Homo sapiens: one gene and its partner. The protein of the gene in region 2 purifies or fractionates together with the protein of the main gene of each other region. This does not show direct contact. Each region holds a gene or a part of one and is shown on either strand. Other genes may lie near its edges.

The links.
Region 1: the proteins of TRPC4AP (region 2) and EPB41L5 purify together in Homo sapiens (affinity purification with mass spectrometry; 2 studies listed by BioGRID and IntAct, with this or other methods). This does not show direct contact.

What each region holds. Positions count from the first base shown.
Region 1 is NC_000002.12:120,177,050-120,179,631, reverse strand, and holds the end of EPB41L5 (band 4.1-like protein 5), read right to left. Parts: 3' UTR 513-2,582; downstream 1-512. UniProt on the Homo sapiens protein: Plays a role in the formation and organization of tight junctions during the establishment of polarity in epithelial cells.
Region 2 is NC_000020.11:35,089,793-35,096,994, reverse strand, and holds the start of TRPC4AP (short transient receptor potential channel 4-associated protein), read left to right. Parts: upstream 1-4,187; 5' UTR 4,188-4,213; coding exon 4,214-4,381; intron 4,382-7,202. UniProt on the Homo sapiens protein: Substrate-recognition component of a DCX (DDB1-CUL4-X-box) E3 ubiquitin-protein ligase complex required for cell cycle control.

The DNA of each region.
Region 1 (2,582 bases), on a different chromosome or scaffold from region 2:
TTTGCCAACACCCATATGGTGCAGTATGACTCTGCCCAGCAGAAGTCCTGAAACCAACCCAGGTGGCACTGTTCCTCGCTGGATGGTGCAGTGCAAACCCAGAGAAGGCTGGGGACTGGTGGGCGCCAAGAGAAGGAGAAGTCAACACCTGCATACTCTACCACACGCTGTGACACACACTTCATGTGCCATTTCAGACAAAAAACCTGAGGTATTAAGCAGTAGAGCCCAGATCCGATGTCCAAAGCTGTGGTGATACTGCACCATGCTGTCCTTGGAATGACCACCGTGCCTTCCAGGATATGCTGGGGATGACCAATGAGGTTTTCAACCTTTGAAAATGCCCCTACTCCCAAATTTACACCACAAAAACATGGAAATCAACCTAAAAACAGTGCGGCTGCTTCTGCTCACTTCCTCAGGTTTGTACCAACAGTGGATCTGGTCTAACTCTGTTGAGGTCAGCATGTAGGAATCACAGTTCCAAGAAACAGAAACAGTGCACAAAAACATGAATGTCTCACGAAGGTTTATTTGAATAGAGTTACATCTAGAGTTCTCATTTCAGTGTACAAACAACTCAGTGCAGTGTTTCTAATACAAGTCATATAAAACTGGAACACACTAAATGAATAGTGCACTTGATAGAAAAATAAATTACACTTTAAATGCTACTGCAAAGTTTTACACATATAAAAGGTAAACACAAAATAGTTAGTGAGACCCTCATAACCACTTATCATATCCAGATAAGGAGATAAAAGGGGCAAAGGAATCTGTGCTATAAAAAAAAATCTCTCTGAAGAGGAGAAATCCTGACAAGTAACTGAATGATCATCTCAAGCAATGTGGTGACATAGGGACTTACAGATCGTATCTCTTAGAACTGGGAAGGAATCATAGCTCTACCAATGTGTTAACACAACCCAGTTCAGCTCAGGGCAAATTTCTATAATTCAAACAAATGTCCTCATACTAACGCCTAATATGTAGGAAAAGTTTCCAACTTTCTTCTGACCACTGAAGAGGTACAGTGTTTAAATTTTTGAGAGGATAAAAAGGACAAATAATCTAGAAATGTGTCTTCTTCAGTCTGCAGAAGACCCCAGGTCTCCAAGCAACCACATGGTCAAGGGCATGAATAATTAAAAGTTGGTGGGAACTCACAAAGACCCTCAGAGCTGAGACACCCACAACAGTGGGAGCTCACAAAGACCCTCAGAGCTGAGACACCCACAACAGTGGGAGCTCACAAAGACCCTCAGAGCTGAGACACCCACAACAGCACCTCGTTCAGCTGCCACATGTGTGAATAAGGATGCAATGTCCAGAAGTGTTGGCTGCCTCCAAGTGACAGGTAACACTGCAGAACCTATCTGAGGACCTGCCAGCCTCCCGTTTCACGCAGCCACTCTGCTGCTCTACAAAGTTTCACATCAGGGGTCAGCGGCTTTGTAAAGGGGACTCCGCAGGAACACAGCTGTGCTGGGGCTGCTGCTGCTGTACTGCGCCAGCAGAGCTGAGTGGGACAGTATTTACCATCTCTGGTCCTTTACAGAACAAGACTGCTGACTCCTCTCAATGACAAGACAAAAACTCTGCTTCTCGAGACTCTTACTTAGAAAAATAGCAGATTTTTCTCTCTGTGACTGATAAATAATTCTGCTAACAAGACTTCTGAAGGAAATCTTCATTTTGGGGCTTAGCTAAGAGAAGAAGAGGTGCAAGTTTTAGCCAGAAGTGAGAAGCATAAGATAACAAGTAGTCCAGATCCAAGAACCCAAGAACAACTCAGGGCTTTCATCCTTAAATCTCCATAGGATATCTGTGATTGTACAAAGGCAAAGGCTAGAGACAAATGTTAGGAGACTATAAGAAATATTTTTAAAAGTTTTTTCTTAAAACAATGTATAAATGTTAAGGAAGTAAGCACACAAGGAACAGAATCATTCCTCTGTTCAGCAGTGTCTCCTGAAGAGTAGGAATGAAATGACCATGACCTCCTGTGTGTCAAAAGATGATGCTACTGACATGTCACAAATTAGGTCTCACTGATTAATTTACAAGTTCTCAGGCAAAGTCTAGAGCAGGTAACTGAAACCTTCACGTCTTATTTTAAACCATCCTGTCAACTCCCACTTCCCCTATCAGGGCTATGAAATGGACTGAGTTGAGGTTCCTCTCCTGTCTGCCCGCAGGGAGGCAGCACTATCTGCTCCCCGCCACCCCACCGTGCTCCGTCCGAGGCGTGCACGGCAAACCCTCAGCAGTGCCCCCGGCTGCCCCTTCTCCAACCTCAGCCCAGTCTCACCAGCCTGCTTCTCACCCACTATCATCTCCAACCTTTCTCTTTGAACCCATCAAGGATGCCGGCACACATGCCTCTCTCTTCTCAAGAGACAGACATCTCCCCTTCCCTACCTGCCACATTCGTAGACCACCTCAGCCCTGCCTCTCCCCACCACACTGTTCTCAGGGGAGCAGAACAGGAAGAGCTGTTACAGCAGCTCTGCGCATGGCAGCAGCAGCAGCTATGACAGGAAACCAATCCCCAACACGCATTTAATCTGTCGGGGCCAATT
Region 2 (7,202 bases):
TTATTTTATTTAGCACAATATCCACAGCACCTATAACAGTGCCTGGCACATAAGATAGTACTTAACAAACATTTAAAAGACAAATCATGGAGAGGTTGTACATTAGAAATGTAATGTAAAAAAAAATCACTGTAAAAAATGACACCACAGGACAATGCATAGTTGCATGGGACAGCTGTTACCATGGCCTGATATAACAGTGCCAGTTGCTTTGATTAAAGTGACTTCTTGGCAGGGTGCCATGACTCATGCCTGTAATCCCAGCACTTTGGGAGGCTGAAGCGGGAGGATTGCTTGAGCCCAGGAGCTTGGCGGCTGCAGTGAGCTATAATCACACCACTGTACTCCAGGCTGGGCCACAGAGCAAGACTTCAAAAAAAAAAAAAAAAAAAAAAGTCCCAGAAAATCTGTCTGCCCAATTGAGATGAGTTTGGCGATTTATTTACAAGAGTTAATGTTCTCTGAATAGCATCATCATGTTTGGTTAAGCCATTTGGGATTACGGTGGAAAAAAAATTAGCCAGTTTGGGAGCTTCATTTTTTTTCTAGTGCTGATTAAAATTGACATCAACAGACCTCTGGTGGGAGAGGTACTTCGCCCTCTGGTGGTGAGAGACACTCAGCTTTTTTTTTTTTTTTTTGAGACAGAGTCTTGCTCTGTGGCCCAGGCTGGAGTGCAGTGGCGCGATCTCGGCTCACTGCAAACTCCGCCTCCCGGGTTCAAGCAATTCTCCTGCCTCAGCCTCCAGGGCAGCTGGGACTACAGGCGCGCTTCACCCCGCCCAGCTAATTTTTGTGTTTTTGGTAGAGACGGGGTTTCACCATATTGACCAGGCTGGTCTCGAACTCCTGACCTCGTGATCTGCCCGCCTCGGCCTCCAAAAGTGCTGGGATTACAGGCCTGAGCCACCGCGCCTAGCCTCAGCTAGTTTCTACGGAAAAGGCTGGCAGAGCAGAGGTGAAGTGGAAAAGAGTGTCTTTCCACAGAGGTTTCTGGAAACATGTCCCCTTACTTCATGGTCACATGGTATCTGTAAGGACTGAATTTGAGGTTGTCATTTTTGACCCAGTGAATACCCAGCTTTGGTGAATGCCTGGGCCAGGCTAGACTGACAAAGATAGGAACTGAGGAATGGAAAGTGACATTTGCAGTTGGGTCAAAGCTGAGGTGGGAAGATTTGTCCCTAGCATGATGAGTGCCAAGGGAAACCTGGAGGGCCATGTGAACTGTGAAATTAGTCAGGATCCTGTCTCCTCACCGCGACAAGGGTGAGAATATCCATCACCATATGCCTCAGGAAGAGCTCTGGGTGGAATCCCTGGGCTGTGGATTCCCTGGTAAGGCTGGCTGCTGCCCGGACAGCTCACCAATGCCCTGTTTGTATCCCTGGAAATGCCTTTTCTTTTTATGTCTTTTTAAAGTTAATTTCACATATTAGAAGACTTTTTTTTCTTGAATCTAGAAATGATACATAGCTGGTGCAAAAAGTTATGAAAAGTATTGTTATTGAACCAAAGTGAGGGCTGCTTACCTGGTGCAGCAAAGCCACTGACATTGGGATTACAGCAAGAGAAAGTGAGGCATTTATTATTGCACTTGCTGCAGGGTGCCAAGCGAGGAGAATCAAACAGCTTATGCTTAAGACCTGAACTCCCTTATGGCTTACAGGGGTTTTATTTTATTTTTTTGAGACAGAGTCTTGCTCTGTCGCCCAGGCTGGAGTGCAGTGGTGCAATCTCAGCTCACTGCAACCTCTGCCTCCTGGGTTCAAGCGATTCTCCTGCCTCAGCTTCCCGAGTAGCTGGGATTACAGGCACGTGCCACCATGCCTGGCTAATTTTTGTATCTTTAGTAGAGACGGGGTTTTGCCGTTTTGGTCAGGCTGGTCTCGAACTCCTGACCTCAGGTGATCCACCTGCCTCGGCCACCCAAAGTGCTGGGATTATAGGTGTGAGCCACCGCGCCCAGCCGGCTTACAGGTTTTTAATGGCAGGAGGGCAGAGGCCACAGGCGAAGTCATAAATCAATACATAGGGGCTGTATATTGGTTCCACCTAAAAAGACAGGACATCTCCAACCAGGGGCCCACAAGTGGATTCAAAGATTTTCTGACTTGTAATTGGTTAAGGAGGTAAAGCTTTGTCTAAAAATTTGGGATCTGCAGAAAAGAATGTTAGCTCTGACTTATGGTCGTGTCCTCCTCCAGGCCCCCTAGGAAGAAATTTATAACAAAAAATAGAAGTCAAAGTTTAGTTCTCAGCTCTCCCTTATCTGAGTTTGCCTATCAGCAGATCCATTTGGTGGGGGTTCGAGTTTCTAAGAAACAACACTCAGGGACAAATTTTAAGATGTTATATTCAGTTTCTATAGGGAACAAAATATCTCCTGACTGTAACTTCTTTGGCTATTTTTTTTTTTTTTTCTGAGATGGAGTCTCATCCTGTCATCAAACTGGAGTGCAGTGGCGTGATCTCGGCTCACTGTGACCTCTGTCTCCAGGGTTCAAGTGATTCTCCTGCCTCAGCCTCCCAAGTAGCTGGGACTACAGGTGCATGCCACCACGCCCAGCTAATTTTTGCATTTTTAGTAGAGATGGGGTTTCACCATGTTGGCCAGGCTGGTCTCGAACTCCTGACCTCATGATCTGACTACCTCGGCCTCCCAAAGTGCTGGGATTACAGGTGTGAGCCACTGGGATTACAGGTGTGAGCCACTGCACCCGGCTGAGTTTATTTTTGTATAATGTGAGAGATGAGGATCCAGTTTCATTCTTCTGCATGTGGCTTGCCAGTTATCACCAGCTGTTGAATAGGGTGTCCTTTCCCCACTTTATGTTTTTGTTTGCTTTATCGAAGATCAGTTGGCTATAAGTATTTGGTTTTATACTGTGTTCTCTATTCTGTTCCATTGGTCTATGTGCCTATTTTTATACCAGTACCATGCTGTTTGGGTGACTATGGCCTTATTGTATAGATTGAAGTCAGGTAATGTGATGCCTCCAGATTTATTCTTTTTGCTTAGTCTTGCTTTGGACATGCAGGCTCTTTTTTGGTTCCATATGATTTTTAGGATTCTTTTTTCTAGTTCTATGAAGATGGATGGTGAGTCTACTCCTTTTAGATGGGGTGTGAGGATGGTAACCATAGTGCCAGTTCACCTGGGAGAGTCACTTTTATGCCTACCGTCCCGGTGTAATTATTTATTGTGTCTTTTCATTCTTTAAAGTGTTCTGGTTTGAGCAGTAAGTTACAGTCATCTTAGTTATGAGTCACAATCTTCACCATTCCCTGTTACATCACACTTAGCTCTCCTCTTTCATTTTTATTACAGGCCCCCTGCTAGGAAGGGAAAAAGTGTGTGTGTGTTGGGTGGGGGGAGTCAGTGCCATCCTGCCACAGAAGTTAGCTGAAAAAATGAGTATTAGAGACAACATGCTATCTGGTGGATAGAAATTAGGACAGGGTTTTCATCTGACAGAGAATATGATGTCACAATTTACTAATCCCTTTCCCTTCCATTATTTAATTTCACAACAACCTACCCAGTTACACAACTTATCCAGTTTGAGACTGCGTTTCTTTGTGTATGGATCTGCTGTCTTCCCCTGTAACCTGCATTTCGTGATAAAGGATCCCAGGCCGTTCTGCTCACCACTGTATCCCAGACACCCTCCCTTTCCCCTAGACATGGTTTGGTGTCGGGCGCAGAGAAAGCCCCAGGAACTACGATTGATCAGGCTCCCAGAATCTATAGATGGAGTGACCTGACGAGGACACAGGCGCAGTGGCAGAGCGCGATGACTTGGTCGATGTCCGCGGTGAGTCACGTGTAGAGAGAAGCAGGCAGGAAGCGGACTCGAGGGCCTGACTCCTGACCTGAAGCCCAGGATCATTTCTTGGCCAGCTGCCTGCATCCTGCCCAAATCGGCGAGAGAAATGGGAGAATGTGGACCTTGGGAGATTTCGCCGAAATGCTGGGCCCGGGGGCCAGAGAAACCGGCAGTGCAGGAAAGGCCACATCTCTTTTCCCACCTACCCCGCTGCCGCGCAGGACTACAATTCCCAGTAGCCTCCACGCCGCACACGGTCCCTGCCACGCGGCTTGCGCCTCCGCCGACGGCCCACTGGGGGCGCTGCGGCGACCCCTCCGCCGCCCCGTAGAAATCTCCGCGGCCCCGAGGCCGCTTGCTTCCTGTTTGTCCGACGAGGAGACATGGCGGCGGCGCCGGTAGCGGCTGGGTCTGGAGCCGGCCGAGGGAGACGGTCGGCAGCCACAGTGGCGGCTTGGGGCGGATGGGGCGGCCGGCCGCGGCCTGGTAACATTCTGCTGCAGCTGCGGCAGGGCCAGCTGACCGGCCGGGGCCTGGTCCGGGCGGTGCAGGTACGAGGCTGGACCAGGAGGGGCGGGGCGGGGCGGACCAGGCGGGAGCTGGCGGGGGGCCGGGGAAGAGGCCTTTCCAGGCCGCCGCTGGACGGGCCAAAGCCCTTTTGGCTGGCCGGAAGGCCTCCCTGTGAGCTGCCCGGACGCTCTCAGCTGCAGCGGGGCCGTGGGAAGCAGCTGGCTTGATGTCCCTTGTCAGGGGCCGAGCGGGGCTGGGCTGCTGTGGACACTGATGGCGTGTACGAACCCTGGGCCCAGTTTCTGGATCCTCCCTTCTTTGCGCCACGTCTACACGTCTGGGGGACCCTGTCGTGTTTGTTTTAGCCTCTGTGGGCCTCGAGTTTATCCCGTGTATTGGGCGTGGGGGAGGGGGTCATCATTGCAGCCCCCAAATGGTTCCCGAGCATTTCATAAATGTCATTTTCTCAGGCCTTTCCTTGACACTCTTTCCTTCCCCTTTCTAAAGTAGGTCCCCATTGTTATTCTGTCACAGCCGCGAATTCGTTTCGTTTACATTACTTTCTTAGTCTATAATTTCGTATTTCTTTGTTGTCTGCCTTTTTCTCGCCCGTCTCCCACATTAGGCTGAGTTCCAGCGGGTGCAGAGACTATATCTGGTTTGCTAGTGTAGAGCGTCACGGTTAAGAGGGACTCTGGAGTCAGGCCTGGGTTCAAAGCCCTGCTCCTCTCTCTTGCTTGGGCAGGTGACCTTTCTGTGCCTCAGTTTCCTCACTTGTAAGATGAAGATGAGAATTAGTAACCTACCTTTTAAGATTGTTGTGGAGATCAAAGGGGGCAATTGTGTAAAGCATTAGTGCATTTCTGGTGCATACTAAGGGCTGAAGGTAGTTAATATTAAGCATCTGACTTATAACAGGTGCCCAACATATGATTATTGTTATTTTTGAGTGAGCGAAGGACACTGCTTTAGGGTAAACCAGGTTGAATAGGACCTAGTCCACTACTTCTTCCACCCTCCCCCACCCCGAACCTTGCTAACACCTGTAAAACATTAGCTTTATTTAAAGACAGCTTTTTCATAAAAAGTTTGAAGGATACTCAAGAAACTGATAAAGTGGTTGGTGGGAGTGAGGTGGGAATTGGGCTAAAGGGGGAGAAAATGGGAGTGAGACTTTTCACAGTGTAACTTTATTTAAATTTAATTTGAATATCACTTCCTCAAATGACGAAAAGGATAGAATAAAATAAAGGCTAGGGGGTCTGTGTGTATGGAGGACTGTGGACGAAAGGAGCAGTTGTGAGTGAGAAATGTTTTCCTGGCCATCACACAACCATAGATGAGCAGCCTTTTTCCCCCTTGTGTTCTTAAGACCTGACTTAAGACCCTGTAATCCCAGCACTTTGGGAGGCCGAGGCAGGCAGATCGCTTGAATCCAGGAATTCGAGACCAGCCCAGGCAACACGGCAAAATCCTGTGTCTCCAAAAATTTAGCCGGGCATGGTGGTGGTGTGTGCCTGTGGGGAGGCTGAGGTGGGAGGATTACCTGAGCCTGGGAGGCGGAGATTGACAGAGTGAGACCCTGTCTCAAAAAAAAAAAAAAATCCTAGAAATACTTGCTCTTTCCTTCTTAAGCTAAGATACCTTACCGAGCTGGGTGTGTAGAGACAGGCAGAAAGAGGACTAACTTTTAGTGAGCACATAACCTTTAGAAAAAGTACGGTACAAGGCATATGTTATCTTTAATCCTCAAGCTTTTGAGTTATGCTTCAAGACTCATTTCTTAATATGGATGAGGAAACTGAGGCTCAGAGAGGTTAGATGATATGTTCCTAAACACCCATCCTGATAATCAGTGTTCTGAGAATAATAGGGAGCCACAGAAGTTCTTTAGCATGATAAATGAGGCAATTTAGGCAACTTAATTTGTTTCCAGTGCTGAATGACTTAGAATGGGAGGAGCCTAGAAAAGCCCACCAGAGGCTGGGCACAGTGGCTCATTCCTGTAATCCCAGTGCTTTGGGAGGTCGAGGCGGGTGGATCATCTGAGGTCAGGAGTTTGAGACCAGCCTGGCCAACATGGCGAAGCCCCGTCTCTACTAAAAATACAAAAATTAGCCGGGCGTGGTGGTAAGCACCTGTAATCCCAGCTACTCTGGAGGCTGAGGCAGGAGAATTGCTTGAACCTGGGAGGTGGAGGTTGTGAGCTGAGATCACGCCACTGCACTCCAGCCTGGGTGACATAGTGAGACTTCATCTCAAAAAAAAAAAAAAAAAGCTCACCAGATACAAGGCTGCTGGAATATTCTGGAGCCACAAAAGCAAGGCAGGTTATTGTGGTAACTGATGGTTGTATATAGGTGTGGGAGCTATTTCAGAAGTTGAAGTAGAGACCCCCTGCCTGGAGCTATAGTGAGGATAAAATGGGGACCTTCATCTTTCAAATATTTCTTTTCTTAGTTTTTTTTTTTTTTAATTTATTCCATGCTGTGCCCTTCCGCTCCTCTCTCCCATCCTGCAGAATAAGTTATTTGCTTACCCTTTTTTTTTTTTGAGACAGAATCTTGCTCTGTCACCCAGGCTGGAGTGCAGTGGCAAGCTCAACTTCCTGGGCTCAAGTGATCCTCCCACCTTAGCCTCCCTAGTAGCTGGGACTACAGGCGTGTGCCACCACACCCCATTAATTTTTGTATCTTTGGTAGAGACAGGGTTTTGCTCTGTTGCCCAGATTACCCATATTTTTATACTGTTATGGCATGTGGTATAGTAGGAAAAGACCAGATTTAAACATTTTTTATTTTTTATTTTTTAGACGGAGTCTCGCTCTGTTGCCCAGACTGGAGTGCAGTGGCGCAATCTCGG